Regions from separate parts of the Homo sapiens genome. Here all the other regions are linked to region 2. The links come from fine-mapping of genetic effects on gene expression. A gene starts in region 2. Each other region holds a variant in brackets. All regions are shown on one strand. Distances are between the middles of the regions. Region 1 has its middle 30 kb from the start of SGPP1. Region 2 holds the start of SGPP1 (sphingosine-1-phosphate phosphatase 1). Region 3 overlaps LOC105370532 (a long non-coding RNA gene). Region 4 has its middle 24 kb from the start of PPP2R5E.

The links. PIP is the estimated chance that this variant, and not a neighbour inherited with it, causes the effect. A credible set is the group of variants that fine-mapping cannot tell apart.
Region 1: its variant is the best candidate, but not a certain one, in a credible set for the expression of SGPP1 in nasal epithelium (TOPMed, PIP 0.81).
Region 3: its variant is the best candidate, but not a certain one, in a credible set for the expression of SGPP1 in whole blood (TOPMed, PIP 0.61).
Region 4: its variant is the best candidate, but not a certain one, in a credible set for the expression of SGPP1 in whole blood (INTERVAL, PIP 0.55).

The regions. Positions count from the first base shown.
Region 1 is chr14:63,753,609-63,761,715 of GRCh38, reverse strand. It overlaps a transcript of SYNE2 not described here. Among named protein-coding and RNA genes, the nearest start is that of SGPP1, 30 kb to the right of the region's middle. The variant A/G (reference allele first, on the strand shown) is at 4,272.
Region 2 is chr14:63,723,296-63,731,402 of GRCh38, reverse strand. It overlaps SGPP1 (sphingosine-1-phosphate phosphatase 1), which reads left to right and starts at 3,338. Exons shown (of 3, transcript NM_030791.4): 1 at 3,338-4,142. The coding sequence starts at 3,459. RefSeq lists enhancers at 2,847-3,036, 3,997-4,046, 3,691-4,192 and silencers at 3,247-3,346, 3,637-3,736.
Region 3 is chr14:63,659,647-63,667,753 of GRCh38, reverse strand. LOC105370532 (a long non-coding RNA gene) reads right to left here. Exons shown (of 3, transcript XR_001750790.3): 3 at 2,349-2,830. Among named protein-coding and RNA genes, the nearest start is that of WDR89, 22 kb to the right of the region's middle. RefSeq lists an enhancer at 4,308-5,308. The variant G/T (reference allele first, on the strand shown) is at 3,781.
Region 4 is chr14:63,563,324-63,571,430 of GRCh38, reverse strand. It overlaps the pseudogene RPL31P5. Among named protein-coding and RNA genes, the nearest start is that of PPP2R5E, 24 kb to the right of the region's middle. RefSeq lists an enhancer at 6,857-7,679. The variant CTTG/G (reference allele first, on the strand shown) is at 3,437.

The DNA.
Region 1 (8,107 bases), 30 kb before region 2:
CTCCAGAAGCAGGTCATAAAGCCGAAAAGGACATTTCTGCCTTTCTCTGAAGCAGGTCATAAGTCCCTCATTAGAGAAGTATTCTCCCTATACCTGAAGAAAAGGAACATCCTTATCTATGAAGACACAGGAACTCAGAGAAGAATCTGAACAAACAGGCCTTGCAAAATGCCCTCCAGCTTCCTGCCATTAGATCATACCTCCTTTTTCCGGCCATACTTCTCCATAACTATCCACTTCTTCATCAGATCTAGCATAAAAACATTTCTGTTTAACTGTTGCTTCGGTTCTTCATTTCCTTATGAAGGCTCCGCATCACGTAAAACTTACGTTAAATAAATGTGTATGCTTTTCTCTTGTTAATCTATTTTTTGTTACGGGGTCTCAGTCATGAACCTTAGGTAGGAAGGAAAATAGTTCTTTCACCCTGCAGTACCGTGGATCAAAAAGAAAAAAAACACACACACATAGTCTCAGTCATGTTTTATTTGTTTTTGTTTGTTTGTTTGTTTTGAGACGGAGTTTTGCTCTTGTCCCCCAGGCTGGAGTGCAATGGCACGATCTTGGCTCACTGCAACCTCCGCCTCCCAGGTTCAAGCGATTCTCCTGCCTCAGCCTCCCAAGTAGCTGGGACTACAGGCGTCCACCACCACACCCAGCTAATTTTTGTATTTTTAGTAGAGACAGGGTTGCACCATGTTGGCCAGGCTGGTCTCTAGTTCCTGACCTCACATGATCTACCCATCTCAGCCTCCCAAAGTGCTGGGATTACAGGCGTGAGCCATGGTGCCCGGCCTCAGTCACATTTTATTTTAAAGGAACAATTATATCATAATGCTTTTCAAAAATAGAGGTACAAGGCCAGGCGTGGTGGCTCACGCCTGTAAACCCAGCACTTTAGGAGGCTGAGGAGGGTGGATCACGAGGTCAGGAGATCAAGACTATCCTGGCCAACATGGTGAAACCCCGTCTCTACTAAAAATACAAAAATTAGCTGGGCGTGGTGGTGCACGCCTATAGTCCCAGCTACTCGGGAGGCTGAGGCAGGAGAATCACTTGAATCCGGGAGACGGAGGTTGCGGTGAGCTGAGATCATGCTGCTGCACTCCAGCCTGGCAGAAAAGCGAGACTCTGTCACAAAATAAATAAATAAATAAATAAAAATAGAGGTACAGGCCTGGCGCAGTGGCTCATGCCTGTAATCCCAGCACTTTAGGAGGCCAAGGCAGGTGGATCACTTGAGGTGAGGAGTTCGAGACCAGCCTGGGCAACAAGGCGAAACCCTGTCTCTACAAAAACTACCAAAAAATTAGCCGGACATGGTGGCACACTCCTGTGGTCCCAGCTACTCAGAAAGCTAAGGTGGGAGGATCACCTGAGGTTTCAATGAGCTGGTATCATGCCACTACACTCCAGCCTGGGCAACAGAGCAAGACTCTGTCTCAAAAAAAAAAAAATACAATATGCTATGAGGAAGCATAGGAGGGAAACTACAGGGTAGCCTCAAAAGTTTCACATCAGAAGTAATATTTGTGCTGAGTCTTAAAAAACAAGTAGAAGTGTGTCAATCCTATCTCTAACTTTCAATCTCTAAAAGAGAAGCAAAATGCAAAAACAAATCTCTATTGCAGATGGAGATTCAGAACTTTGTAAAAAAAAAAAATTTCTTTCAGTTTATTACCTCCTTGATCTTTTCTGCTTAGGATATTGACCTAACACTGAGTGGCTTAGTAAATATAAATTTAATACTTGATAAGCCTTACTCCTTAATATTTTCTTGTTTCAGTGAACAAGGTTCCTTTTCTTCAGGAACATTAGATTTTCTTCCCCCTGTGTGTGGCTCAATATTAATTTCCCATCCCCTTATCTGTGTGCCTGCCAAAAATGGAGACTACAGAGATTGGAAATACATTCTGAGCTCCTGCGTGAATTTCCTGAATTATTTCCTTATTCCTGAGGAAGGATCTCCAAGAAGGTGAAGAGAAGCAGCCAAAAATTATTTTAATTCAAACCAGCAGTGGTTGTCTTTGTACAGTGACGGCTTCCTAGATCACATGGTAAAGTAAGTCTTAGACATACTCTGTCCTTGCTCTGCCCACATCCTCTGCTTCATGGACTGTGCCTGACAGTTTCATTTTTGCTTTCAACCATTCCTATAAAATTCTAGAAAACACGATTTCGAGCAGGGATGCCAAATTTTGAACCTGACTAGTAGATAAATCCAATCCTCAAAAAAATGAATGCAAAGTATAGCACGAAGGCATGCAAAAATTTGGTTCTTACTTTTTCTGCTATTTACTCTCAAATCTTTTTTTTAAATAATGGAAATACAACATGTAAACATTTTTTTTTTTTTTTAGACAGAGTCTTACTCTGTCACCCAGGCTGGAGTGCAGTGGCGCGATCTCGGCTCACTGCAACCTCTGCCTCCTGGGTTCAAGCGATTATCCTGCCTCAGCCTCCCGAGTAGCTGGGACTACTGGTGTGTGCCACCACACTCGGCTAATTTTTGTATTTTTAGTAAGATGGAGTTTCACCTAGTTGGCCAGGCTGGTCTCGAACTCCTGACCAGCCTTGGCCTCCCAAAGTGGTGGGATTACAGGCGTGAGCCACCGTGCCCAGCCTGCATGTAAATAAATTTAAAATATTCTTTTTTTTTTTTTGAGACTGAGTCTCGCTTTGTTGCCCAGGCTGGAGTGCAGTGGCACAGTCTCGGCTCACTGCAACCTCCTTGTCCTGGATTCAAGTGATTCTCCTGCCTCAGCCTCCCCAGTAGCTGGGATTACAGGTGCCCATCACCAGGCCTGGCCAATTTTTTGTATTTTTAGTAGAGAAGGGGTTTCACCATGTTGGCCAGGCTAGTCTTGACCTCCTGACCTCGTGATTTGCCCACTGCAGCCTCCCAAAGTGCTGGGATTACAGGCGTGAGCCACTATGCCCAGCCTAAAATATTCTTAAAAAAAAAAAAAAAAAAAATCTGTGCTCGCTTCTGCAGCACATATGCTAAAATTAAAAAAAAAAAAAATCTAGACCTACAGATTTTTTGGAGGCAAGATCTCACTCTGCCACCCAGGCTAGAGTGCAGTGATGCAATCATAGCTCACTGCAACCTCAAACTCCTGGGCTCAAGGGATCTTCCCACCTCAGCCTCTTGAGTAGCTGGGAATAAAGGCACACATCACCATGCCAAGGTCACGCCACTGCACTCCAGCCTGGGTGACAGAGGGAGACTCTGTCTCAAAAGAAAAAAAAAGCCTCTTTATATTTTTATTTCATCCTTAAAAATGTCTATATATTGCATAATGTATGTTATATATTAATACAGTAAATACATATATAATGTATAAATAAATAACATGCAAAAAAAAGTTTGAATACCACTCATTTAAAATTGGTACCCTTTGATTTCATATGTTTTGTTCATATTTTGAGAAGGCTGTAGGATAAATTTTCAAAGGGAACAAACTGAAATGCATAGCTAGATATAAGTTGTTTAATTATTGCATTTGGACTGTTGACCTTTGCAATACTCATTGTATACTAAAAATCAAGTTAAAATAAAGTCTTGTTTAATTTTTATAGATTGTAAAAATAATTAAGAGAATTTGAAAATGACATAAATATAAAATAAAGGCAAAATATCATGGGACTGCCAGGCATGGTGGCTCACACTTGTAATCCCAGCATTTTGCGAGGGCGAGGCAGGCGGATCACTTGAGCTTGGGAGTTCGAGACCAGCCTGGGCAACATGGTGAAACCCCATCTCTACAAAAAATACAAAAATTGGCTGGACGTGGTGGAATGTGCTTGTGGTCCCAGCTACTTAGGGGGCTGAGGTGGGAGGATATCTTGAGCCTGGGAGTTCGAGGCTGCAGTGAGCTGTAATTGAAACACTGTACTGCAGCCTGGGTGACAGAGCCAGATTCTGTCTAAAAAAAAAAAAAAAAAAAAAAAGCGAGACAACTGTTATCATTTTATGTATCTTCTTCTAGTCTTTTTTTTTTTTTGCCAAAGGATCCTCTTTCCAGAAGGTCTGAAGGCACAATGAATAAAACCATGGAGTTACTACAACTATATCATTTCCACCAGTGCCCTTAAGCTGTTGTCTAGAATTTCTATTTATAGAAAAAAAGTTAGCCTTTCTGTGTAAGCAACAGAAAGAGGGATACATCAAAAGCCAGGTAGGGGTGCAGAGTAAGGAAAGGCTGGAATTATAAGCTAAACTAAACCAACAAAGTCAGTAAAAGAAAATAAAAGAAAACATCCAAAAC[A/G]AAGAGGTGCTATCAATAGCAGTCACTGTAAAAACATGTCAAACAAAATAATCAGCTTATGCTATAAAGAATAAAAGAGACTGAAAGCATTCTTTGAAACATGAAACAACTATTTTCACTACTCTAATCCTTCTTCAATCCATGTATTCCTTTCTTTGGTCATTTGCCCTAAATTACTGAAAACAAATATTTGACAAGAGACAGCTAACTGAAGAGAATTAATCCTTTTTAGCTTTAGGTTAAACTAAGAGGAGGCTAGTCCATTTAACAGCATTTAGTGGACAAATCTTTGAATAGGTTTAGGGTTCAATTAATATCTGAGCCTAATTATTATTATTATTATTATTATTATTATTATTTTTAAGGTGGAGTCTCACTCTGTTGCCCAGGCTGGAATGCAGTGGTGCAATCTCAGCTCGCTGCAACCTCCTCCTCCCGGATTCAAGCAATTCCCTTGCCTCAGCCTCCCGAGTAGCTGGGACTACAGGCGTGTGCCACCATGCCTGACTAATTTTTGTATTTTTAGTAGAGATGGGGTTTCACCATGTTGGTCAGGCTGGTCTCAAACTCCTGACATCAAGTGATCCACTCGCCTCGGCCTCCCAAAGTGCTGGGATTATGGGCATGAGCCACCGTACCCAGCCTCCTCATTATTTTTCATATGCATGAGGATACAATCTTACTCCAATAAAAGTTAAGTTCTCTGAACAAGCATGACTAAAAAAGTGTTTCTTTTAATCCACTAGCAGTAAAACTCACTGTTCAGACACATGACTAAAATTTTTATCCTTTATAAAATTTCCAGCATTTCCAATGTTTGTATAGTTCAACAATATCCAAAACTTTCCAATTCATAATGTTCAATAAATGTGAAATACTATTAGAAAATCTTTAAAATTATGGCTTACTTTCACTCAAATGTAACTGTATATATAACAAAACGGATAAAAGTAAAAGGAGGTCTTCACTTGCCAAGGTTCTTTGTTAACTGCATCAGGAATGTTTTTAATAACTCTTTTAATAATAGACTCAGGATGGTAAGAATATTGCAATAGTAGTTGGTACCTTTAACTGTGTATCTATTTAAATTTACTGGCCAAAAATGTGTAAATGTAACATAATACAGACTTTAAGCCATACTTCTCAAATTAAAAGCATTTATCTAACTCAATGCAGAATATTATCACACAGGTACCACACCCATGCACACCAACTAAAAACAGTATTCATTCTTAAGTGTGGCAAGGAAATTTTTTAATTTTTATGTTTACTTTCATAATATCCCTTTTTTCACCTTTTTTCTTTTTCACAAAAATGTCATGAGAGATACCGTGCAACAATAATTAGGGAATCTAACCTGAGGTCCCTGTGGGTTGTAAGTTTCTAAAACTTCAAAATTATGGTCATCTATGTATTTCATTGGTTGTCTCTTTTTTTGTTGTTGTTGTTTTTTCTGAGACAGAGTGTCACTCTGTCACCCAGGCTAGAGTGCAGTGGCGTGATCTTGGCTCACTGCAACCTCCACCTCCCAAGTTCAAGTGATTCTCTTGCCTCAGCCTCCCGAGTAGCTAGCATTACAGGTGCCCACCACCATGCCTGGCTAATTGTTTTTTGTATTTTTAGTAGAGGCGGGGTTTCACCATGTTGAACAGGCCGATCTCGAACTCCTGACCTCAAGTGAGATCCACGTGCCTCGGCCTCCCAAAGTGCTAGGATTACAGGCGTGAGTCACCGTGCCTAGTCCATAGGTTGTCTCTTTATGTATCATGTACTTCATAACTGCCAATTTAAAATTCCGACTCCAAGTAAAATTATCTAGCTGTCATCCATGCATTTTCCTTCATTCCATATCTTTAATAGGTATGATATCTTGTAAATTTTAAAACTGTTCCAATTGTTTTATTGATTTAGTAGAATGTGGCTATCAATCTCAATTAATTAAACTCACTTTTTTTATTGTCACCATATTGAGTTCATGAATCATTTAAAGATTATAATGTTACCTTTATATATCTATGTTCACACATATTGCATAATAATAATTTACCATTCCAAAATTTTCTAAATTAAGTAATTTTATTTATTTTTATTTTATTTTTGAGATGGGGATCTTGCTATGTGGTCCAGGCTGGAGTGCAGTGGCTATTCACAGGCACAATTATTGTGCACTACAGTCTTGAACTCCTAGACTCAGGAGATCCTCTTACCTCAACCTCCTGAGTAGCTTGGACTACAGGTTCATGCCACCATGCCCACAAATATATATATATATTTTTTTGTTGTTGTTTTTTTTAAGATAGAGTCTCACTCTGTCACCCATGCTGGAGTACAATGGCAGGATCTTAGCTTACTGTAACCTCCGCCTCCCAGGTTCAAGCGATTCTCCTGCCTCAGCCTCCCGAGTAGCTGGAATTACAGGCGCCTGTCACCACGCCCAGCTAATTTTTTGTATTTTTAGTAGAGATGGGGTTTCACCATGTTGGCCAGGCTGGTCTCCAACTGCTGACCTCAGGCAATCCATCTGCCTCGGCCTCCCAAAGTGCTGGGATTACAGGCGTGAGCCACAGTGCCCGGCCTATTTTTATGGACTGAAAATAAATTTAAAATGGTCAACCATGGCTGGGTGTGGTGGCTCATGCCTATAATTCCAGCACTTTGGAAGGCCAAGATGGGAGGATTGCTTGAACCCAGGAGTTCAAGACAAGCCTGGGCAACATAGTGAGACACTGTCTCTACTTTTTAAAAAAATTTAAAAATTAAAGGAAAAACAAAAAAGGAAAAAAAAATTAAAAATTTAAAAAAATAAAATAAATGGTCAACCAAAATATAACTCAATCGCAATGTTAATTTCTTAAATTTTGATCCTTTTAGAAAGAAAATTTATCCCCTCTGCTTGTGATAGTTCTGAAATTGAAATTTAAACAAAGAGTAATGGATTAATTAATTAAATATTACCCTATGGAAAGGTACCTCTAGAAATTCAGCTATATCAGCTCTGGAGTTCCCAAAATAATAGAATAGTATATCAAGTTATACTTTTGTTTGTTTGTTTGTTTGAAACGGAGTCGCCCAGGCTGGAGTGCATGGGTGTGATCTCAGCTCACTGCAACCTCCTCCACTCAGGTTTAAGCGATTCTTCTGCCTCAGCCTCCCAAGTAGCTGGAATTAGAGGTGCGTGCCACCACACCTAGCTAATTTTTTTGTATTTTTATTAGAGATGGGGTTTTGCCATGTGGGCCAGGCTGGTCTCAAAATCCTGGCCGCAAGTGACCCACCCGCCTCGGCCTCTGGAAGTGCTGGGATTACAGGTATGTGCCACTGCCCCAGGCCAAGTTACAGTATTTTCCCCCAAACATTAATTCAACCTATCTCCATTAATAAACTTAAAAATTGTCCAAGAGTGTTATTTCATCATGGAAGAAAAATTTATCCATTTTTATGTACAAACACTATTCCTCTGTTTATGGAGATTTTTTAATTATGTCGAAGATGAACCAGTTAAAGAGTTCATGTAGGACAGATACATATATATTCAAAGTTAAGGTAAAGGTTTTCTTTTCTTTTTTTTTTTTTTTGAGTCAGAGTTTTGCTCTTGTTGTCCAGGCTGGACTGCAATGGCACTATCTTGGCTCACCACAACCTCTGCCTTCCGGGTTCAAGCGATTCTCCTGCCTCAGCCTCCCAACTAGCTGGGATTACAGGCATGTGCCACCACGCCTGGCTAATTTTGTATTTTTAGTAGAGATGGGGTTTCTCCATGTTGGTCAGGCTGGTCGAACTCCCGACCTCAGGTGATCCACCCACCTCAGCTTCCCAAAGTGCTGGGATTACAAGCG
Region 2 (8,107 bases):
CCTGTCTGTACTAAAAATACAAAAAATTAGCTGGGTGTGGTGGCAGGCATCTGTAGTCCCAGCTACTCAGGAGGCTGAGGCAGGAGAATCGCTTGAACCCAGGAGGCAGAGGTTGCAGTGAGCTGAGATCACACCACCATGCTCCAGCCTGGTGACAGAGCAAGGCTCCGTCTCAAAAAAGAAAAAAAAAAAAAGAAATTAGACACAAGTTTGTTCTAACCAGGAACAGACTAATATTTGCCTGCAGTCCTATGAATTCAAATGAAACATTTTAATTTTTTCCTAGTTCCAAAATTTCATTCAAATCTATCCCCCGCTTCCAATCCCCCAGAACCAAGGTCCTAGTTCAGGCTGTCATTGTTTCTCACCTGATGACTGCAATAATCTTCTAATTATTTACCTAGCCTTCACTCTCTGACCTCTGACAATCGTCTTTGATTTCTTTCCCAGTTATCTTTCTAAAACACAGTTCTGATGGTGTCACTCCCTAGCCTAAAAGCCTTCCATGGCTCCCACTGCCTACAAAATTAAATCCCTTTGGTATTCAAGGATTTACAACCTAATCCTATCCTCCCTTTGTAATCCCATTTCCAATCACCCTTGCTACTCTATGCTATATGCTATTGTTTTTTGGTTTTTTTTTTCATTTTTTAATTTTTACTGTTTGAGACAAGGTCTTACTCTGCTGCTCAGGCTGGAGTGCAGTGGTACAATCGTAGCACCCCGTAACCTCTAACTCCTGGGCTCAAGCAATCCTCCCACCTCAGCCTTAAAAGTAGCTAGGGCTACAGGCATGTGCCATCACACTCAGCTAATTTTTTTATTTTTCTTTATTTTTAGTCTGAGTCTAGCTCTATTGCCCAGGCTGGAGTGCAGAGGCACAATGTTGGCTCACTGCAACTGCCACCTCCCAGGTTCAAGCCATTCTCCTGCCTCAGCCTCCCGTGTAGCTGGGATTACAGGCACCTGCCACCATGCCTGGCTAATTTTTGTATTTTCAGTAGAGATGGGGTTTCACCATGTTGGCCAGGCTGGTCTCAAACTCCTGACCTCAAGTGATCCACCAGCCTTGGCCTCCCAAAGTGCTGGGATTACAGGCATGAGCCACTGCACCAGCCCCCCACCTAATTTTTTAGAAAATATTTTTGTAGAGTCAGGGTCTTGCCATGTTGCCTAGGCTGGTGTCAAACTACTGACCTCAAGTGATCCTCCCACCTCAGCTTCCCAAAGTGCTGGGATCAAAGGAGTGAGCCACTGCACCTGGTCTCTATGGACTATTGTTTACCAAATACATTTTTGCATATCCCTATCTTCCTTCACTTTCTCTTCCTAAAATGGGCTTCTTCACCTATTCATATTTTGCTCTGTAAAACAATCCAGCTCTACAGGATCACCTCCTAACACCTTTCTTCCTGTTCCTAGTCAAACTTGTCCTCCTTTCTGAGGCATGCTGTTTATGTCTGTTTTACACTTGCCATCTTCTCTATACTCTAGAAGTAGTCCTGTCTTTCTTTATCTCCCCTAAACTGTGAACAACTTGAGAGCATGGGTGATGATTTATTCCTCTTTCTATGGCCACAGCCTAGCAAGTGGAGTGGGAGGAGGAGAGTACCTGTCCCTGCGAAATGAAATTTTTTTTTTTTTTTTTTTTTTAAGATAGGGTCTTACTCTGTTACCCAGGCTGGAATTGCAATGGCACAATCAGGGCTCACCGCAGCCTTGACCTCCCGGGCTTAAATAATCCTCCCGCCTCAGTCCCCCAGTTATCTGGGACTACAGGTGTGGGCCACCATGCCCGGTTAATTTTCTTTTTTTTTTTTTGAGACAGAGTTTCACTCTTGTTGCCCAGGCTGGAGTGCAATGGCGCGATCTCGGCTCACCGCAACCTCTGCCTCCCTGGTTCAAGCAATTCTCCTGCCTCAGCCTCCGAGTAGCTGGGATTACAGGCATGCACCACCCCGCCCGGCTAATTTTGTATTTTTAGTGGAGACGGGGTTTCTCCATGTGGGTCAGGCCGGTCTTGAACTCCCGACCTCAGGTGATCCGCCCGCCTTGGCCTCCCAAAGTGTTGGGGTTACAGGCGTGAGCCACTGTGCCCAGCCCTGCCCGGCTAATTTTGTTCATTTTTTGTAGAGGTGGGATCTCCCTATGTTGCCCAGGCTGTTGTCAAACTCCTGGACTCAAGCCATCCTCCCTCCTCGACCTCCCAAAGTGCTGAGATTATAGGCATGAACTACCACGCCTGAAGGAAAGTATTTCTACTGTTTTAAGGGCATGGGACAATTTCAAGCCTGTTTCTTGGAAGTAGTTCACATTCTTTAATTACAGACATTCACCTGATCATGGCGGGTGTGGTGGCTCACGCCTGTAAACACAGCACTTTGAGAGGCCAAGGCAGGAGAATCACTTCAGCCCAGGAGTTGGAGACCAGCCTGGGCAATATAGCGAGACCCTGTCTCATCTCTCTCTCTCTAGGTATATATAAAAGACATTCACCTGACCTGAGGAGTTCAGAGACCTTATAAACTGCTCTAGCTAGAAGTCAAGTTGGTAACTTGTGAGACACGGAAGTTAAGCGTCTAAATTAACGTTACCAAACTCAAAAATCTATACACTGCATTCATTCTCTACATTTATTCTGTGCAAGCCCTCTAGGTATTAGAATCTAGGAAAAGGAAATTTTACACTTAAGAACACCTGTGCTCCCTTAACATATACCAAAATATTTGATAAATGACACAGTATTTTGAATTTGTAGGTGGCTGGCTTTTCTTTTGCAGACCACACCTGTTAATATCACCTGGCCCTGTCTTGGGATCTACATGTAGTCTTGTCACCACTGGTCAATTGGCACATGGTTTTCCGAACATCAGTCGCCTGGGACAGCTCTGTAATTACTTGTTAATTACTTGAGTCGAATGATTCCGAACTCATGGTAGTTGCTTCGCCTTCATTGATCATTCACCATTTGGTTCTGTGCCAGCAGGATGCCCGGCTGCTTGGTCACAGGCATTGCGCAAGCTGGCACCGGGATCGTGGCCTCTTTAAGTCAACTTCTGGCTGAGGGAATCCGGCGACACTAGCCCGCGGAGAAGAAGGGCTGAAGGTGGAGCAGGGGGACACGCCGCGTCCCACCAGACGTACGCCGCGACGCCTGCTGGTGGATATTACCCGGGACCTCAAAGCGGCCGCCCGCCGATCCTCAGCGCCAAGCCACGGCCGGATGCGCTCAGGGCGGACCCGCGCGGCCCGGCCCCTCAGGGAGCCCGGGTGGGGGCGGGGCTGGGCGGGGCGGGGCGCGGCGCGCGCGGGGCGGGGGCGCGCGGCCTGTGGCGCCGTCACCCGGCAGACTCCGGAGGGTAGAGCGCTGTGCCGGTTCCGCTGCCGCTGGCCAGGAGCGCGGGGACAGTTCGGGGCTGCGCCGGAGGCCGGCCCGCCTTCCCGGGGGTTCCGTTATCATGTCGCTGAGGCAGCGCCTGGCCCAGCTGGTTGGCCGTCTGCAGGACCCGCAGAAAGTGGCCCGTTTCCAGCGGCTGTGCGGGGTGGAAGCGCCGCCGCGCCGCTCAGCAGACCGGAGGGAGGATGAGAAAGCGGAGGCGCCTCTCGCCGGAGACCCTCGACTGCGAGGGCGGCAGCCAGGGGCGCCTGGAGGCCCCCAGCCTCCCGGGAGCGACCGCAATCAGTGCCCGGCCAAGCCGGACGGCGGCGGCGCCCCCAACGGCGTGCGGAACGGGCTGGCGGCCGAGCTGGGCCCGGCCTCGCCGCGGCGCGCGGGCGCTCTGCGCCGCAACTCGCTGACGGGCGAGGAGGGCCAGCTGGCCCGCGTGAGCAACTGGCCGCTCTACTGCCTGTTCTGCTTCGGCACGGAGCTGGGCAACGAACTCTTCTACATCCTGTTCTTCCCCTTCTGGATCTGGAACCTGGACCCTCTGGTGGGCCGGAGGCTCGTGGTCATCTGGGTGCTGGTCATGTACCTGGGCCAGTGCACCAAGGACATCATCCGCTGGCCGAGGCCCGCCTCGCCGCCCGTGGTCAAGTTGGAGGTCTTCTACAACTCTGAGTACAGCATGCCCTCCACCCATGCCATGTCCGGCACCGCCATCCCCATTTCTATGGTCCTCCTCACCTATGGCCGCTGGCAGGTAGGGTTCCTTCTCGTCCTGTTCAGCCTGGGGGAGTTCAAAGAACTCGGAGTTCTCTTTGCTCTCTGCATTTATTTTAATTCGACCGTTCCCCTCCAAAGCCTCTCTTTCCACAGGTTTTCACAATACTCGCAAACAGGCCCTTTCTGGGTTTTGAAAAATTAAGTGATTGGGGGAAACTGGATACTTAGCCGTTGAATTCTATTTTAATATTAAATTCCAATTTAATGCCTTAGAACCCAAAGGACACACTTTTCCTAGAGTAATACATTGTCATTGGGCTTTGGTTGAGTTTTTTAAACGGCTTTAATTCTTGTAATGCACAGTGGAAGTGAATTTTTTAAATAATCGCTATGTAAACTAAGACCCAGTTTCACCGTAATATATGGTGCCTTCTTCCCTAAAACTGTTTCAGAAAGAGGTAAAGTCATTAGCTTTACCGTGAGACAGTGTTTACAAAACGTTAGTGTAATTCCAAAACAAACATGCTAGTTCCAAGCAATGAAGTAATCGATTTTCATCGAAGTTCCCTTTATGGAAGTTAATGGAGCACAGGGTGAGTTCTGTTTTTAAGGGGTGTGGTTGCTACTTTGCTGATAAAGTTTGATTATCTTCTGGATCACTAATCTGTAGTATCTAACAGTTGTTGAGCTACAACTGTAATACTATAGTGTTATTGCCTCATTAACTCTAAAAATGCATGGTTTAAAAGTTATTCTTAAAGATAGGGCTCTTGATCAAACTAGTGGGTTTATAAAAATGGCAAATATGACAGCAGGGTCAGCCTGACAATCAGGAAAATTTTTTTTTTTTTTAACCCTCTCTGAAAACTGCCAAGGGAAGAGTTTTTAATGGTAATCGTTTTTATTTTGCTTACTTCTTTTGGCCTTCCAATGTTTATCTGTCTTTGAACTGTAAGATTTGTTAATCCTGCAGACCAGTCCCTTATTTTAAGAATAAAGTGCGTAATTGTGGAGATTCTAAGGAAACAAACTTCCTCTATTTTTTCCCCCTTTACTTCACAAAATCATTTTACATTGAGAAATACACATTCTGTGTAAAACTCCATTATGATAAGCTTACTTATCCCACATTAAATTTCAGTGTAGATAAAATTTCGTCCCCATGGATACTTCTGTGTAGTGCATCTCTCTTACAGTACATGGAAAATACGCATTGTGCATAGTAAGAATGGCAGAATTAGGAGGAAAGAGTACCATGGGAAGTTTTTTTCTGTTTAACCAAAGGAGCTATACGGTGATGTTCAGATTGTGAAGCAGTGCTACCTGTTTTGCGTAACAGATAAATATCTCGAAGTTTTCATTTAATCTAAATATTTCAGAATTTAAGATTTTCAATGAGCTGTGTTTGGCCTGGTGATGTTAGCTGATGATGTTTCTCTTATTTTCGTGAGACTTTTAGGATTCTGTAACAATAGAGCCTTTTATGATGCCTTCTCAGTGAGTAGCTATTTTGTATGCTATTAGTATTAGCAGTCAAAGTAAGAGAAAATAGCTATTTTTGCTCTTTATTTGTTCTGGACACATACTAACTGGAAGTCTGAAAACAGTACTGCTGAATCGTTTATGGGATATTGATATTCTAACATTTCAGGGTTATTTGAATTATCAGAATAAGCTTAGATTTAGTTTTTAAACAACCTAGTATATTTAACTCAAAGTTTAAGAAATTTGCGTATCATAGAATTTTAGACTTTGAAGTAGACCGGATGTTAGAAATCACTTAGTTTCAAACTGTCATTTTACAGATGTGCAAACTGACCAGTTACATTAAAATTAATCTTGTAATGCTTTAAATTTCTTATTTTACATTTTTTCACTCTAAATTTGCATGATTTTTCGGTTAGTTGTTCTGAAAGAAAGCCTCCTGACGGAGTCTCGCTCTGTTGCCCAGGCTGGAGTGCAGTGGTGCAGTCTCGGCTCACTGCAACCTCTGCCTCCCAGGTTCAAGCAATTCTCTGCCTCAGCCTCCCGAGTAGCTGGGATTACAGGCGCCTACCACCACACCAGCTAATTTTTTAAGGATTTTTAGTAGAGATGTGGTTTCACTGTTTTGGCCAAGCTGGTCTTGAACTCCTGACCTCAGGGGATCCACCCATCTCGGCCTCCCAAAGTGCTGGGATTACAGGCGTGAGCCACTGCGCCTGGCCTAAGCCTCCTTTATATGAAAGTTCTGTGTTTATAAATGTTTGACTAATAATCCAGTACAAAAAACAAGATGGCTTTTTAACCTTTTTCCTTTTTTTTTTCCCTAAGAGTCGGGGTCTCACTATATTGCCTAGGCTGGTCTCGAACTCCTGGGCTCAAGTTATCCTCCCTCCTTGGCCTCCCAAGTGCCAGCTTTTCCTTTTTTTTTTTTAAGACGGAGTCTCGCTCTGTTGCCCAGGCTGGAGTGCTGTGGCGCAATCTCGGCTCTCTGCAATCTCCTGATCTCAATCAGGAGATTGAGACCATCCTGGCTAACACAGTGAAACCCCGTCTCTACTAAAAAATACAAAAAATTAGCCGCCCCCCGCTCATCGGCCTCCCCACCACTGGCCTCCCAGAGTGCTGGCATTACAGGCGTGAGCCACCGCGCCTGGCCTCCTTTTCCTTTTCCTTTTTTTTTTTTTTTTTTTTTTTTTAAAGATCCTTGTTATCTATTGAAAACAAAAGTACCTTCCTTTGCTTCAGCTGTTTGGGTCCTCTACTCTGTGAATTAGTATTGTACTGCATTGGAGGCTTATATAGAAAGCCTTTCCCCTAGAAACTGGGGGAAGAATTAAATAATGAAAGCCTGGTGTTTTTCTAATAAGTTTTGGTTGGCAGTCTTGCCTATCTGCTGTGCCTCAGCTGCTTATTTGGGACAGGTATGGTTACTTATATATGCCTGGCGTGCTGAAACATCTCTTGAAACTGAGTTCTATACCATTCCTTTGTCTTGGCTTTACTACTTCACTACTACCTACTACTTAATGTTTCTGCCCTCATTGAAATTTGCTCAAGATTCACCACCCAGAGCATTTTAAATTAATCCTTTCTGTTTCATTATTCCTCACTTACACTTAAAATGACAGTATATGGCCAGGTGTAGTGGTTCATCCCTGTACACCTAGCACTTTGGGAGGCTGAGGCGGAAGGATCCCTTGAGCCCAGGAGTTGGAGACCAGCCTGGGCAATATAGCGAGACCCTGTCTCTGCAAAAAAAAATCAAAAATCAGCTGGGCATGGTGGCGCATGCCTGTAGTTCTAGCTACTAGGGAGGCTGAGGTGGGAGCATCACTTGAGCCTGGGAGGTTGAGGCTGCAGTGAGGTGTGATTGCACCACTGCACTTCAGCCTAGATGACAGGGCAAGACCCTATCTCAAAAAAAAAAGACAGCGTACAAACTCGGGGTTGTTTAAAAATGCAGATTTCTACATTTCCCAGGGTAAGTTTCCCAGAGATTCTGACCCATTAGATGAGTGAGGAGTTAGTTGTATTTCTTCAAGATTGCTGTCTCAGCTTCTTTGAAATTCCAGTCTTTGAATTTTTTTTTTTTTTGAGACGAAATCTCTCTTTGTCACCCAGGCTGGAGTGTGGTGGTGTGATCTTGTCTCACTGCAAACTCTGCCTCCCCGGTTCAAGCGATTCTCCTGCCTCAGCCTCCTCAGTAGCTGGGACTACAGGCGCACACCACCACCCCCGGCTAATGTTTGTATTTTTAGTAGAGACGGGGTTTCACCATGTTGGCCAGGATGGTCTCGATCTCTTGACCTCGTGATCCACTCCCCTCAGCCTCCCAAAGTGCTGGGATTACAGACGTGAGTCACTGCACCCTGCCTGAATTTTTTTAAGGTACGTTATAAGACAAAGGAGAGATTGGAATAGTATAGCTCCAAGTAATTACTTAAAGAGTTTTGTATATAAATTTTATGGTGATGGAGGATAGAAAATGTTATGACCTTTTCCCAAGGATTAAATAAC
Region 3 (8,107 bases), 64 kb after region 2:
GACAGAGAGAGACTGTCCAAAAAAAAAAAAAAAAATTTACCATCTTAACTATTTTACATATGCTGTTTTGTGGCATTAAGTGCATTCACATTGTTGTGCAACTATTTGCAACTCTGGAATCTAGATGAATCCTAATACTAACATTTTGTCAAGTTTCAAAAAATGCTGCTGTTGGCCAGGCACGGTGGCTCACGTCTGTAATCCTAGCACTTTGGGAGGCTGAGGCGGGTGGATCATTTGAGGTCAGGAGTTCGAAACCAGCCTGGTCAACATGGTGAAACACTGTCTCTACTAAAAATACAAAAAAAGTAGCCAGGCATGGTGGCGGGCGCCTGTAATCCCAGCTACATGGAAGACCGAGGCAGGAGAATTGCTTGAACCCAAGAGGCGGAGGTTGCAGTGAGCCGAGATTGCGCCATTGCACTCCAGCCTGGGCCACAGGCAAGATTCCATCTCAGAAACAAAACAAAACAAACTGCTGTTGCTGTGTTGCTATTCTGATTGTCATTATAATCCATGTACAGATTAATTTACGTAGATTTAACTTTTACAATATTGTCTATGAAGCACAGCATGTGTATATACGTATATAATATATATATTATATATACAATATATATAATATACTATATATAATATACAATATATATAATATACTATAATATACTATATATACTATATATAATATATATAATATACTATATATAATATATATTGTGTGTATATATCTATTTTTTAGATAGAGTTTTGCTTTTGTTGTCCAGGCTGGAGTACAATGGCATGATCTCGGCTCACTACAACCTCCACCTCCTGGGTTCAAGCGATTCTCCTGCCTCAGCCTCCCCGTGTCACTGGAATTACAGGCATGCACCACCATGCCCAGCTAATTTTGTATTTTTAGTAGAGACGGGGTTTCTCCATGTTGGTCAGGCTGGTCTCAAACTCTCGACCTCAGGTGATCCTCCTGCCTCAGCCTTCCAAAGTGCTGGGATTACAGGCATATATTTTCCTCTCATTCATTCACTCAAATATTTATTGAGTACTTATTACACCAGGAACTCTGCTAAGCATTAGAGATATAAATGTAACTAAAGTAATGTATCTGTAATCATGGATCTTAAGAAATCCAGAAGAGGAGATAGAGATCAAGCAAATAATTGCACAAATAAATGTAAAGTTGTGAAGTGCTAAGGAGGAGAGAGATGTGGTAATACAGTGAGCTTATAATAAGTGATTTTATCTAATTGGCGGGGTGGGGTGTGTCTGGGCAGTCTTCCCTGAAGTAAGAACTGAGCTGACTCTGGGAAAATACACTGAAGTCATCTTAAATAGCCTCCATTTGGCTCCATACAGGCTCTGCACATTTCTTTGGTTTGTCCCTGGGTATATAATCTTTCTTCTTGTAATAATATAAGAGCTCTTGTATTCATTTTATTTTTAACCTTTTTTTTATTTATGGGAAAGCTATTGATTTTTGTATATTATATATGTAACCAGCTACCTTTGGGATTTTCTTGTTTTTGAGGGAACCCATTCTCTTTCTCGTACATTTTTGCTTCAGCTAGTAAGTTAGGAATATCTGTCAAAACTTCTGCCCTCTTGGAAGTTTGAAGGGGGAAGCTGCTGTCTTCTCCCCACCTCTGTGAGTACAAGAGTGATTTACCTGTTTTTATTGATTTTTTATTTTTTTTATTTTTTTTTTGCTGTAGGATATAGATCCTGATGACTTACGTGTTTGGTAAAATGGTGAGAATATGACATCCACTAAGTCATCTTTCTGTTTTGAGTGGAATTAATATGTGAAAGGCCAAGGCTCAATGTGGCATTTCTCTTTTGACTCTCTATTATAGTCAGCAAGTAAGGGAGACTCCAACTACTTTATTTATTAATAACTTTTAAATATTTTGCTACAATTATAAATAGTAATCATTAAAGTTATTTACTTAAGAAACAATGTCTCACTCTGTCACCCAGGCTGGAATGCAGTGGCATTATCATAGCTCACTGCAACCTTGAACTCCAATGGCCTCAAGTGACCCTCCTGCCTCAACCTCCCAAGCACTGAGATTTCAGGTGTGAGCCACTGTGCCGGCCACCGTTAGATTTTTTTTTTTTAATCTTGGTTTAATATCATGGAAATAAAGATGCTTGAAGGTCTGGTTTTATTTATTTTGTATTTTTATTTTTTTACATAAGTTCTACAGATCTGCTGAGGAGGTATGGGTTTACATTCAATTTATCTTAATTATTGGTTTTAATATCTATCATAGATGAGAAACATAATTGAAAAAGATGCCAAGATTCAAAGAAGTAGTAAAAAATCAGGATACTCATTTTTTAGTCCTATACCCTATTTATAGAAAAATTTTTATTGAAATTCCACTAGAAATACCCATCTTCCTTAATATCAGAAGATACTGCCTTTTTAAAAATTTTCTTGAGACAAGGTCTCACTCTGTTGCCCAGGCCGGGTGACAGAGCAAGACTCCATTTCGAAAAAAAAAAAAAAAGAAAGTGGATAGAATTTTTTTTTCAAATAGTCCTCTTTGTAGTTCTCTTTTAACTGACATCTTGTTAGGTTTTATTAAACTGTCATTTTTATCACATATTTTGGCTAAGAAGAAATTATACCAGAAGTAGGAAAAGAACTAGTTCTGCCATTTTGTTGTTGTTGCTTTTATCTTCATTATTGATCTTTTCAATCCTTGTCCTCTTTGCATGATTGTTTTAAAATCATACGCTTGTTTCAGGCTATGTTCTCAAGAAGCAGAACTTGAGATGAAGATTCCTGTGCCAGCGATTCTTTTGAGAGAGTGATGTCAGCTGAAACCTGTAAGGGAGTGAGAGAAACAGAATAGGACAGAGGAAGAAGCTAGGCAAAGACATGGGTTCAGTTGAAATCTATCTTCATTTTGATCCCATGAGCAGCTCTGGAGTGTGGATGGCACCATGGACTTGTCTCTTCTTGAGGCAAGGAAGCAAGCTTTAGTATTCCTGTATTATTCAGTCGTGGGCTATGGGCCGCCTGGAGTTAGTGCAGGAGGGTGGTGGCAGAGTGTGATGTTCCTGATTAGGTAGCATCCATCATTTATGGTCAGTTCTTCACAGAAAGATACAGGTATGAACTGGTAGCAGCCAAGAGTCACAGCATGTAGGGAATGGGGACCATGACCAGTAAGTAGAATCTGGGCAGGGAACCAACACCCATTTTTTGAAGTTACTTAAGGCTAAATATTATAATTGGGAAATCTTTTACTTAACCATTGTACAATGTGTCAGCTGAAAATGAACAAACAAGTGAGAGTGACACTTAGGGAATTCATGCTCTTGTCCCTGATACTCCCTACCTGATGTGACCATCAGGCCTTCAGACTGGTGAAGATGCAAATGTCAACCTACACACTAATCTTAGTGTAGCATAAACACACCTGAGAGCAATAAGTGAAGCCTACCCTGAGAATGACCCTGTATGGCAGATGCATCTGAATGTGTGTTCTAAGCTAGGGAATCTGGGAGTGGCCAACCTGGACATTTTTTCCTTATCAATGATGAACATCTGAACCCCTGTCCTGCCCTGTTCATGGCAGTGGCAGCCCATCTGGAGCAGCCTCTCTGACAATGCTGGCTGCAGCCGGGAGGCGCGGCTGGGGCTGTGTATTCCATGGAGCAGGCAGGATCCCCACCCTCCTGGATGCACCTGCAGCCGCCCAAGCTGCAGCTGCAGGGTCGGAAATGCCTGCTCCCGCTGCCTAGCCTCTCCTTACTCCTGGAGCCCAATCA[G/T]ATCTTGGTGCAAAGTTGAGGCCAAGCCAAGGTGCTGTTGCAATCCAGCCAGGTGTGCTCATTCTTGGGGCAGTGCTGACATGCCAGCCCCCTGCCGCCTTGACCCTCTCCGGGCTTTGGGCACAAACAAGCATGGGAGGGAGGCTGAGTGGGGTCTGAGGGCAGCTCAGTGCTGGGCTGCAGGCACCACTCTGCAAGAGCAGCCTGGGCACCATGAACAGTGGCAGGAGGCAGGCAGGCTCCTGGGTGGAAAGGGGAAGGTCCCTGGTGAAGCCCCGCCTTCAAGCTGGGGAAGGCGTGAAGCCTGGGGACCAGGCTGCCAGCCCTGCAGACCAGAGTGGGAATTTGTGCTTTTTTCTGGGCCCGCCCATGGCTGCCTGTGGACCAATCAGCAAGCACTTCCTTGCTGATAAAAACCTGACTCAGCCAGACTCAGGGAGATGACAGGATGACCAGCTATGGAGAGGAGCTACCCACCCCAGGGTCTCCTCTCTGCTGAGAGCCGAACACTTGATGGGACACCCTCCCTTCAAAGAGGAGCTACCCACTGTGGGTCTCTGAGCTGTTCTGTTGCTCAGTAAAGCTCTTCTTCGCCTTGCTCACCCTCCACTTGTCCACGTACCTCATTCTTTCTGGACACAGGACGAGAACTCAGGACCTGCCGCATGGCGGGTCTAAAAGAGCTGTAACACAAACAGGGCTGAAACACACCCCTTGCTTGCCACATTGCAGGAGACAAGGAGAGAAGAGCTGTGGCCCTTTGATGAGCTCAGACCTAGAAGCTCCCCAAGCCAAGGCTGTGACATACTCTTTGACACTGCATTTCCTGGCATCTCCAAGCTTCTGGGCAGCACCACGTTCCCCAGTGCCAGCTGTGGAAGCTACTTGTGGTACACCTGGTTCAGCTGCAGCTTCGCAGGGAGCCAGTGCCCGTGGTGGTGCCTGGAGCTGCCTGCCCTACTGCAGCCGATGTGCCTGGCTGTTTGCAGTGGCTGGACCCCGTGCTCACTTGCTCACACACCTGTCACCACTCCACTCCACTCATCTCAGAAGGTGTGGGATCTTGGCAGGTAGCATGAGCTGAGCACAGCCTGACAGGCTGATTCGGCCCAATGGGCCTGAGCAAAACTCAGGCAAAGGCGCCACTGGCCACAGAGGTTTCCGGCTGGAAAAGCAACACCCCCAAGGATCCCATAACACAGTGGACCAGGGGCCATACAGGGGATTTAGGCCCTGAGTTTTGGGTTGGATGCAGCTTGCCAAGTGGAGGTTGTTAGAGGGAGGGTGTTAGGTGAAAATGCTATATTAATTGCATACTATTTGCAAATGATTGTGGTTTTTCTGCGCAGCCAGTCGTCACTGGGCCATGTGGCTGTGATGTCCAGTGCACCAGCCCCGGACTATAGGCAGGGGGTCATGTTGTCCAACCTGCCACCATTGGATTGTAGGTAAGACAGATATCTTGTCCATCCCACTGCCACTGGACCATTTCTCTAATTAAGGCAATTCCCCTTTCCAGCCTGCTGCCACTGGATTCTCTTCCATGTATGTAATCCCCTAATAAAACCCCAGGTCTTATTTGCTGGTTCTGGGTCTCTCCTTTGGCCTCTTGAACCTGGTGCCTTCCTTACAGAGGTTAATAGGGGTTTGGCACAACAATTAGTAAAATTTAGTTTCCTCTTTTTAGATTACAAAAAAACAATTTAGGCCAGGCGCGGTGGTTCACACCTGTAATCCCAGCATTTTGGGAGATCGAGGCAGGTAGATCACTTGAGCTCAGGAGTTTGAGACTAGCCTGGGCAACACGGTGAAACTCCATCTCTACAAAAAATACAAAAATTAGCCGGGTGTGATGGCATGCGCCTGTAATCTCAGCTACTCGTGAGGCTGAGGCAGGAGAATCTCTTGAGCCGAGATCGCGCCATTGCACTCCAGCCTGGGCAAAAAAACAAACAAAAAAACTGACAAGTGTCATTCCCATTCTATTAGCTCTCATTAGTGTTGGGAATGCAGGGAGTTTTTTTGACAAATAAATCCTACTGGAGGATTATATAACTAATTATAGTTTAAAAAAGGGGTTCTCAAAATGTGAACCAAAGACTCCTGGGGGTCCCTAATACTCTTTCAAGGGGTCTGAAAATTCCTCCCTTTTCCTACTCCATGTCTGTATGAGGACAGGTTTGCTTCAAATACTTAAAAAAAAAATCACAATAGTTTGAAGGCAGAGTCAGATATGAGAATCCAGGTTTCTTCTATATGCCAGACAGTAAGGAGATCTGCAAATACATTAAACAGAATAACTCTTTGTTGTACCTATTTTTCTTTGTTTTAGAAAATATATTTTTCTTAAAATGTTTATGATAACATGTAATGGGTTTAATATCGCTACTCAAAAATGGGTAAATACATCTTTTTAGACTTTGGGTTTTTTTTTTTTTTTGAGTCAGAGTCTTGGTCTGTTGCTCAGGCTGGAGTGCAGTGGCTCAATCTCGGCTCACTGCAACCTCCACCTCATGGGTTCAAGCGATTCTCCTGCCTCAGCCTCCCAAGTAGCTGGGACCATAGGCGCGTGCCACCATGCCCGGCTAATTTTTGTATTTTTAGTAGAAACAGGGTTTCACCATGTTGGCCAGGATAGTCTCGATCTCTTGACCTCATGATCTGCCTGCCTTGGCCTCCCAAAGTGCTGGGATTACAGGCATGAGCCACCGCGCCCGGCCAGATTTTTGTTTTAATTTCTAATATTGAAAATATTGATAGATAGACAAAACCCACATAAACAAAAGCTCTTTGAGGCCTTCAATAATTTTTAAGAGTATTGAGGGGTCCTGAGACCAAAAAGTTTGAGAGCCACTTGTCTAGAATACTCTCTTCTTCATTCCTATTCTCCCAGCATTCTTGCATTCCATGATAGGGAGCTGTGTACCTGTATTACTCTCTCCTTGAAAAGAGGAACTGTATATTCGGCACAGTACTTAGCAGTGTTTTGCATGTACTAAAGGCTCAGTAAATATTTGGTGAATTAAAAACTGAATATTGCTGTTTTCTTCCAAATCTGCTCTTCTTTTCAAATTTATCTTTGTTTAACCCTGCTGCTCTTTATAGGCAGCCATTGACTCTTTTTTCCCTTTCGTTGCTAAAACTTCGAGGGATAGTCTTCATTTAGCTCCATGCCAAGTGTGGGGGCTAATCCAGTGTGGAGAGTTTGGGAAGGAGGCACACCAGGAATTCATTTTGCATCCTGCTAACTTTCACACTAATGTTCAAGTATTGATTTTATCATGTTATTTTTGCTCAAGAGCCTACAGAGTCCCTGTTTACTTCAGATATAAACACCTGTGCCTGTGTTCATGCCCATAACTTTATCCCATGTACCAACCTTATCTCCCATTAACTAGCAACACCTTCTCTGCAGCCAGGCTGACTGCTTCACTAGTCCCCATGCATGTGCTCTTTCCCAGAGATAAATTTTTTGCACTGGCCACTCCTGCCATCTGGCTGTTATCCATCCTTTAACCCCCGTTCAGGTCCCAAAGTCTCCATTAAATATTCTTGAATTACCTTTTTTTTTTTTTTTTTTTTTTTGAGACAGAGTCTCACTGTATTGCCTAGGCTGGAGTGCAGTGGCACAATCTCGGCTCACTGCAATCTCCACCTCCCGGGTTCAAGCAATTCTCCTGCCTCAGCCTCCCAACTAGCTGGGATTATAGGCACCCACCACCACGGCCAGCTAATTTTTGTATTCTTAGTAGAGACGGGGTTTCACCATGTTGGCCAGGTTGGTCTCGAACTCCTGACCTCAGGTGATCCACCCATCTCAGTCTCCCAGAGTGCTGGGATTACAGGCGTAAGCCACTGTGCCTGGCCTGGCCTTCTTAATTACTGTCTTATAACGCATCCTGACTGAAATAGAATCACAGCATAATGGACAAACTGATTGGTGAGCAAGGAAGAAAAAGCCTTTGTTTCTTGCGGGCGGGAGAGGGCAGGACTGGTAAGAGAAAATGTCATGTTGTCCTTCTGTACAGCCACCCACACACAAAACCTCAACCAAACAAACCAGCATTATCAAGGGCATGGAGCCAGAAATGACAGACAAACTGGGGCAAAGTGTTGCTTTTTGCCTTTCCATAGAAGAGGCCATTGTCTTTGCTTTTATTTCAGCATCGAATCCCCTGAAGTGTATTTACTTTTTATGCATCTGTTTCTGCCATTAGATAATTCATTGAGGAACTAAGGATGTCTTATTCATGTTTCTATACCCACTAGCATACCGTAGGTGCTCAATATATTTCCTTAAAGAAATGTGTGACTGGCATGGGCGAAG
Region 4 (8,107 bases), 160 kb after region 2:
GGCCTCAGCTTCCATAACTGCATGAGCCAATTCTCCTAATAAATCCCCTCTCATCTATCTGTCTGTCTGTCTACCTATCTATTTTCCCATCCATCCATCCTATTAGTTCTGTTTCTCTAGGCAACCTAGACCAATACTTCAAGCAAACTGTCAGGCAGAGGGAACAGCTTTTACAAAGCAAGCAGTTTCCACTGCTTGGAGCAGAGACCTAAAATAACAGTGAGGCTGGGCACAGTGGCTCACACCTGTAATCCCAGGACTCGGGAGGCCAAGTCAAGCGGATTACTCGAGGTCAGGAGTTTGAGACCAGCCTGGCCAACATAGTGAAACCCTGTCTCTTCTAACAATACAAAAATTAGCCAGGCATGATAGTGCACACCTACTGAAGTCCCAGCTACCTGGGAGGCTGAGGCAGGAGAATCACTTGAACCCAGGAGGCGGAAGTTGGGCTGCAGTGAGGTGAGATCGTGCCACTGAACTCCAGCCTGGGCAACAAAGCCAGACTCTGTCTTAAAAAAATTATAAATAAAATAAAATAACAGTGGTTTAAACAACCAAGCAATTTATTTCTGTCTCTACAAAGACCTCAGGATCCTAGACTTCTTTATCCAACTATTCCAAAAGCAAGGTGTGGCCTTCATCCTTTATGGTCCAGGACATTGGCTAGTGCTCCAGCCATCACATCCACACTCCAGATAGCACAGAAGAAATCCAAAGGAACTTTACAACTATCATATTATGCAGTTTCTTAGTCCACATCCATCCCATTAGCCCAACACAGTCTCCTAACCACAATTAGCAGCAAAATTCTCTGGGAAATATAGTATTTATTCTGGGTATCACGTCTCCACCGAAAAATTTGGCATTCTATACCTGTGAAAGGGAAGAACAGATAATGGGAGACAATTAGCTATTTTTGTCACATATTCTTATCTCCATTTTTTTTTTTTTTTGAGATGGAGTCTCACTCTGTTGCCCAGGCTGGAGTGCAGTGGCACGATCTTGGCTCACTGCAACCTTAGCCTCCCATGTTCAAGCGATTCTCCTGCCTCAGCTTCCTGAGTAGCTGGGACTACAGGCGCGTGCTACCATGCCCGGGTAATTTTTGTATTTTTAGTAGAGACAGGGTTTCACCATGTTGTCCAGGCCGGTCTCGAACTACGACCTCAAGTGATCTGCCCACCTCAGCCTCCCAATGTGTTGGGATTATAGGCATGAGCCACCGTGCCTGGCCTTTTTTTTTTTTTTTTTTTTTGGAGACTGAGTATACCTCTATTGCCCAGGCTGGAGTGCAGTGGCGAAATCTTGGCTCACTGCAATCTTCGCCTCCCAGGTTCAAGAGATTCTCCTGCCTCAGCCTCCCAGGTAGCTGGGATTACAGGCACCTGCCACCATGCCTGGGTAATTTTTGTATTTTTAGTAGAGATGGGGTTTCACCATGTTGACCAGGCTGGTCTTGAACTCCTTACCTTAAATGATCCGCTTGCCTCAGCCTCCCAAAGTGTTGGGATTACAGGCATGAGCCACCACACCCGGCCATCTTCATTTTTTATATAAAATCAATGCAAAGAGTGGTTGCATTATTTTCAGGTGCATTCAGGAAATTTCAAGTAGTTTTTCTTAGCTTTTGCATAAAGTGTAAAGTAGGAAGAATGAAAGGTAGTAGAGCTAGAAAGATAATCAAGTGATCAGAATACAAAGGTATGGACCCAGTGTGGTGGCCCACACCTGTAATCCCAACACTTTGGGAGGCCAAAGTGGGTGGATCACCTGAGGTCAGGAGTTTAAGACCAGCCTGGCCAACATGGTGAAACCCTGTCTCTAAAAAAAAAAAAAAAAAAAATACAAAAATTAGCTGGGCATGGTGGCAGTTGCCTGTAATCTCAGCTACTTGGGAGGCTGAGGCAGGAGAATTGCTTGAACCCAGAGGCAGAGGTTGCAGTGAGCTGAGATCACACCATTGCACTCCAGCCTGGGCTACCAGAATGGAACTCGGTCTCAAAAATACAAACAAACAAAACAAAACAAAAATTAAGATATGGCTTGTGTGCTATTCAAATTGCTCAAGGACTCAATAATTTGATCAATTCTGTAAAATGAGTTTTTGGATTTTCTGAAATGGAAAGGAGACCCGGGATAGCAGTGATGATGCCATGTTACTGCCTACCTGTGGGAAAGAACTGTCTCTCTGTTCCTCCTACTTCCTACCCCTTAAATGCAAAGAAATGGCAGCAAGAAAGAAGCTGAGGAAAGGACTACTAATTTAATCAATATTCATTGAAATAAATTTGTACTAAGCACTTGCTTAGTACAAATGCTTGTACAAGCATTTGTGTATGTGGCCCAAATCCAATCCATGTGATCATAACAGTCTATCAAAGCAGCAATGCCACTGTTTCAGTAAAGAAAGTGTTTTTACGGCCGGGTGCAGTGGCTCATGCCTGTAATCCCAGCACTTTGGGAGGCTGAGGCGGGTGGATCACCTGAGGTCAGGAGTTTGAGACCAGCCTGGTCAACATGGTGAAACCCTGTCTCTACTAAAAATACAAAAAATTAGCCGGGTGTGGTGGCAGGCGCCTGTGAGCCCAGCTACTCAGGAGGCTGAAGCAGGAGAATCTCTTAAACCCGGGAGGTGGAGGTTGCAGTGAGCTGAGATTGCACCACTGTACTCCAGCCTGGGCAACACAGTGAGACTCCGTCTCAAACAAACAAAAAAAATGAAGCATTTTTAGGCCAGGCAAAGTGGCTCACACCTGTAATCCCAGCACTTTGGGAAGCTGAGGTGGGCAGATTGCTTGACCTCAGGAGTTCAAGACCAGCCTGGGCAACATGGTAAAACCCTGTCTTTACTAAAAATACAAAAAAAAAAAAAAAAAATTAGCCAGGTGTGGTGGCATGCGCCTTTAGTCCCAGCTAGTTGGGGGCTGAGGTGGGAGGATCACTTGAACCTGGGAGGCAGGGTTTCAGTGAACCGAGATTGTGCCACTGCTGCACTCCAGCCTGAGCCACAGAGTGAGACACTGTCAAAAAAGAAAAAAAAAAAAAAAGCATAGGTTGAGAAATAGAAAGCATTTCTGTTTGTTTGTTTTATAAGTTCATTTGATGTATTCGACAATCAGTGGTTAGTTCTCATCCACATTGACTGTAGATTTTTGAAAACGGTAACACGTACATGGGTAACCAAAGTATAGAGCTTGTTTGTTGAATTTTCATCCTCGTTACGTTTTCTGGACAACCACACAGGGATACGGTATGGGACAATCCTTATTCCTTTGGCCCAAACAGCTTTGTTGAGCCTAGTATCAATGTGCACATCTGGAGTGCCCATCTCCTTCATGGCACATTTTTGGATCTCTTCGAGTGCCCGAGGGGCACACTTCTTGAAGCCCACACCATGGATGCGCTTGTGAATGCTGATGGCAGAAAGGCTCTTCTT[CTTG/G]CCATCCTTCTTTGCAAGAGCGATCCTGCCGGGCCCAAGTTGGAAAGCAAGAGAACTACAGATTGTGGGAGAAAGAAAGCAGCGGTTCCCTGAAGGTATTTCTTGAAACACTGGAGGAGAATGGAGCTAGCTCAAATGGGAATAGATGAGATTTATAGTCACTCCTCCATCCCTGCAACATATCTACTTTAAATTCTTGGTTATGTTAATTTGTAGGTCTCAAGGCATTACATCAAGACATCATAAATTACATTGGGAGCTAAGGTGAGGAGTTTAGCAAGATCTCATAAGCTATCTGGTTCTCTTACCTATTAAATGAGAGGTCAAGACAAACTGAGTTATCAGGGACTTTTGTTTTTTTGAGACAGAGTTTCACTCTTATTGTCCAGGCTGGAGTGCTGGAGTGCAATGGCGCAATCTCGCCTCACCACAGCCTCCGCCTCCTGGGTTCAAGCAATTCTCCTGCCTCAGGCTCCCGAGTAGCTGGGATTACAGGTATGCGCCACCACACCCGGCTAATTTTGTATTTTTAGTAGAGACGGGATTTCTCCATGTTGGTCAGGCTGGTCTCGAACTCCCAACCTCAGGTAATCCACCCGCCTCAGCCTCCCAAAGTGCTGGGATTACAGGCATGAGCCACCATGCCGGGTCTATCCAGGTCTTTTCTGCTCAAACATTCCAGAAAGGAAAAGGCAGAGATAACTAATGATGTCAATGATAATATAGCAGTCTCTTCCCAAACACACTCCCAAGCTTTTTTTATCGTTGTTGTTGAGACAGAGTCATAATCACCCAGGCTGGGTGTAGTGGCACCATCTCGGCTCACCAAAATCTCCACCTCTCCACCTCCCAGGTTCAAGACATTCTCATGTCTCAGCCTCTCAAGTAGCTGGAATTACAGGCGCGTGCTACCATGCCTGGCTAATTTTTGTATTTTTAGTAGAGACGGGTTTCACCATGTTGGCCAGGCTGGTCTCCAACTCCTCAAGTGATCTGCCCACCTTGGCCTCCAAAGAGCTGGGATTACAGGCATGAGCCACCGCACCTGGCCTCAAGCTTTTGTAACGAACGGGTATAGCAAACTAGAGGTTACTGTTGAGCACCTCTAGAGAGTTTTTCATTTCAGTTATACTTTCAACTCCAAAATTTCTATTTGGTTATATGTAGAGAAATAAGTATTTCTATTTCTTCATGTTTTCATTGAGATTTGCTGAGATATCTTTCTCATGCTTTTCTTTAACTCTTCTTTTTTTTTTTTTCTTTTTTTTTGTGAGACAGGCTCCTGTCCTGTCACCCAGGCTGAAATGCAGTGGTATGAACATGGCTCACTGCAGCCTTGTACTTCTGAGCTCAAGTGATCCTCCCACCTCAGCCTTCTGAGTAGCTGGGAGTACAGGCATGCATCACCACACCTAGGTAATTTATTATTTATTGATTGATTGATTGAGACGGAGTCTCGCTCTGTTGCCCAGGCTGAAGTGCAATGGCGTGATCTCGGCTCACTGCAACCTCCGCCTCCCGGGTTCAAGCAATTCTCCTGCCTCAGCTTCCTGAGTAGCTGGAACTACAGGCGCCCACCACCACGCTGGCTAATGTTTGTATTTTTAATAGAGACTGGGTTTCACCATATTGGCCAGGCTGATCTCGAACTCCTGACCTCAGGTGATCTGCCCACCTCGGCCTCCCAAAGTACTGGGATTACAGGCATGAGCCACCATGCTTGCCGTAAAGATATTTTAAATATCTTACTTAAAGTTTAGTAAGTACAAAGTCTAGGCTTCCTCAGGGAGTTTCTATTGACTGTTTTCTCCCAGTGCCTGGGACACACTTTCTTGTTCTTTGCATGTTGTGTAATTTTTTGTTGGAAACTGGGGATTCAAAATAATATAACATGGCAATAATTGAAATTGGATTCCCTTCTTTCCCCAGGAGTTTTACTGCTGCTGTTTCTTTGTTTGTTTAGTGACTTCCTGAACCCATTTTGTAAAGTTTGTATTTTTTTTTTTTTTAAAGACAAGGTCTTTCTTGGTCTTCCAGGCTGAAGCACGGTGATGCAATCAATCCTAGCTCATTGCAGCCTTCAATTCCTGGGTTCAAACAATCCTCCTGCCTCAGCCTCCTGAGTGGTTAGGACTATAGGCATGCACCACCACATCCAGCTAGTTTTTTTCTTTTATTTTCTTCTTTAAATTATTATTTATTTTTATTTCTATAGGTTTTTGGGGAACAGATGGTGTTTGGTTATGAGAGAGGAGAAAGAAAAAAACCCAGTCAGGCAGGCAGTTAGGGTGGGTCCTCGGTTGAATCCTTTCAAACAAAAGAACAGCCTGCAGGCACAGGTAAGGGAACTTGCACAAGGGGGCTTGCCTAATACATGCCCACAGTCTCACAGATAAGAAAGGTTACCCAGGTGACTTGCCCAGACATACTCGCAATGGAAAATTCCATCCTCTGACACTTGCTTAGTAAGGGGAACAAAGCAATATGGAGTAACTCAAGCTAAGGGCTCACATGCGCACTAGGAGGATGGGGTAAGCTACCAGAAATTCACGCCTTATACAAATGAGATGCCCAGCCCTCACTGGTTTCTTATAAAAGCCTTTGCATTCAGCTGTAAAAAATGGCAACCCTCTTCAGGTCCCCTCTCCGCAGAAGACAGCTTTCTTCTTTCCCTTATTAAACTTTTGTTCTAACCTCATCCTTGGTGTCCGTGCTCCTTAACTTTCTTGGTTGTGAGACAAAGGACTCTGGGTACTACCTCAGGCAAGGAGAGACTGCTACATTGTGGTGCATTGGCAAGACTATAACATGGATAAGTTCTTTAGTGGTGATTTCTGAGATTTTGGTGGACTCATCGCCCGAGCAGTGTACACTATACCCAGTGTGCAGTCTTTTATCCCTCATTCCCCTCTCACCCTTACCCCTGAGTCCCCAAAGTCCATTATATCATTCTTATGCCTTTTTGTCTGTTTCCTTTTTTTTTTTTTTGGAGATGGAGTCTGGCTTCGTTGCTCAGGCTGGAGTACAATGGCGTGATCTTGGCAAACTGCAACCCTCCGCCTCCCAGGTTCAAGAGATTCTCCTGCTTCAGCCTCCCAAGTAGCTGGGATTACAGGCACCCGCCACCACGCCCAGCCAATTTTTGTGTTTTTAGTGGAGACAGGGTTTCACCGTGTTGGCCAGGCTGATCTCAAACTCCTGACCTAAGGTGATCCACCTGCCTCGGTCTCCCAAAGTGCTAGGATTACAGGCGTGAGCCACTGCTCCCAGCTGAGTCTCTTTCCTTTTTCTTTTTAAATTGTTGTAGAGATAGGTCCCACTGTGTTTTCCAGCCTGGTCTCAAATGCCTGGCCTCCCAAAGACCTGAGACTACAGGCATGAACCACTGCACCCAGCCAAGTCAGTATTCCTTTTCAAGGGTGTGGCACTGAAATCTGTTCAGTTAGCTTAGTAGTCAGCTGATTACTGGACACAGAGTTCCTCAAATTCCAGGAACCAATAAGTCTCGCAGCCTTTCCTGAGAGACTGTGTGGGGGGGCCTGCCTTCAATGCTCAGGCAGGATTTTCACAACTCTGCCTTAGCCTTTACTTTCTGCTTGTGAAGGGCCTCAGGGTCTGACAGAAATGAGAATATAGGGACTTTCAGGCATTTTCTGGGCAAGTGCACAACTTTGCACATGCTCAAGGACTTGTAGATTCCAAGGAATGTGTTAAAGAGTTTTCCAAAGCCCCCTGTGGATATCTTATACCTCAGCTTTTGGAGTCTCGCTCTTTTGCCCAGGCTGGAGTGCAGTGGTGCACTCTCGGCTCACTGCAACCTCCACCTCCTGGGTTCAAGTGATTCTCCTGCCTCAGCCTCCCGAGTAGCTGGGATTACAGGCATGTGCCACCATGCCTGGCTAATTTTTGTATTTTTAGTAGAGATGGAGTTTCACCATGTTGGCCAAGCTTGCTTTGAACTCCTGACCTCAGGTGATCCACCTGCCTCAGCCTCCCAAAGTGCTGAGATTACAGGCGTGAGCCACCGCACCCAGCCCCCAGATTCTCTTTTCGGGTTTTTTGTTCAGCTTCTGGTTTGCTCTAGTTGTTATCATTACCATAGCAACTGTAATGTTAAATAATTGTTACTGATTGTTTTTGACCAATGCCCTGAGGGAAAAGACTTTTTGCACTGAGTTCTGAGTCAGATCAGATAAAGACAAGTCCTGTGAGTGGAGGTTTCCAGGGAACTGCCAGACAGGTCAAATAATGAGAATTCTCTGTGAATGGTGCTTTGGGGAGCTCTAAACCCATTTGGTTTTCTACAGTGGCTACTAGGCTGTTCGTTCGCCATGATACAGAGTAGTTGGTTTTCAAGATTACTGTGGACCTAAAAAGATGGGGATGAGAATAGGACAAGATAAATTGTCACAAAGTTCACTGTTCTTACCAAGATTCAGCCATTTTTCTCGAATAAATGCTCCTGGACTTGCTGCAAAACGTTTGTTATTGTACAGTGTTCCAAAGAAATTGATTTTGACAATTTTTGTCAGTGTTTTCAGTGTTCTAATGAAAGAGTATATTTTCAAAAGTCTTCACTCTGTCATTCCCTCTGATGTCACTCCAGAACCTAAGGAAGATATACCTGGTGGTTTCTATATGCTTTGGATGGCTTTAGGCTCATGGCAG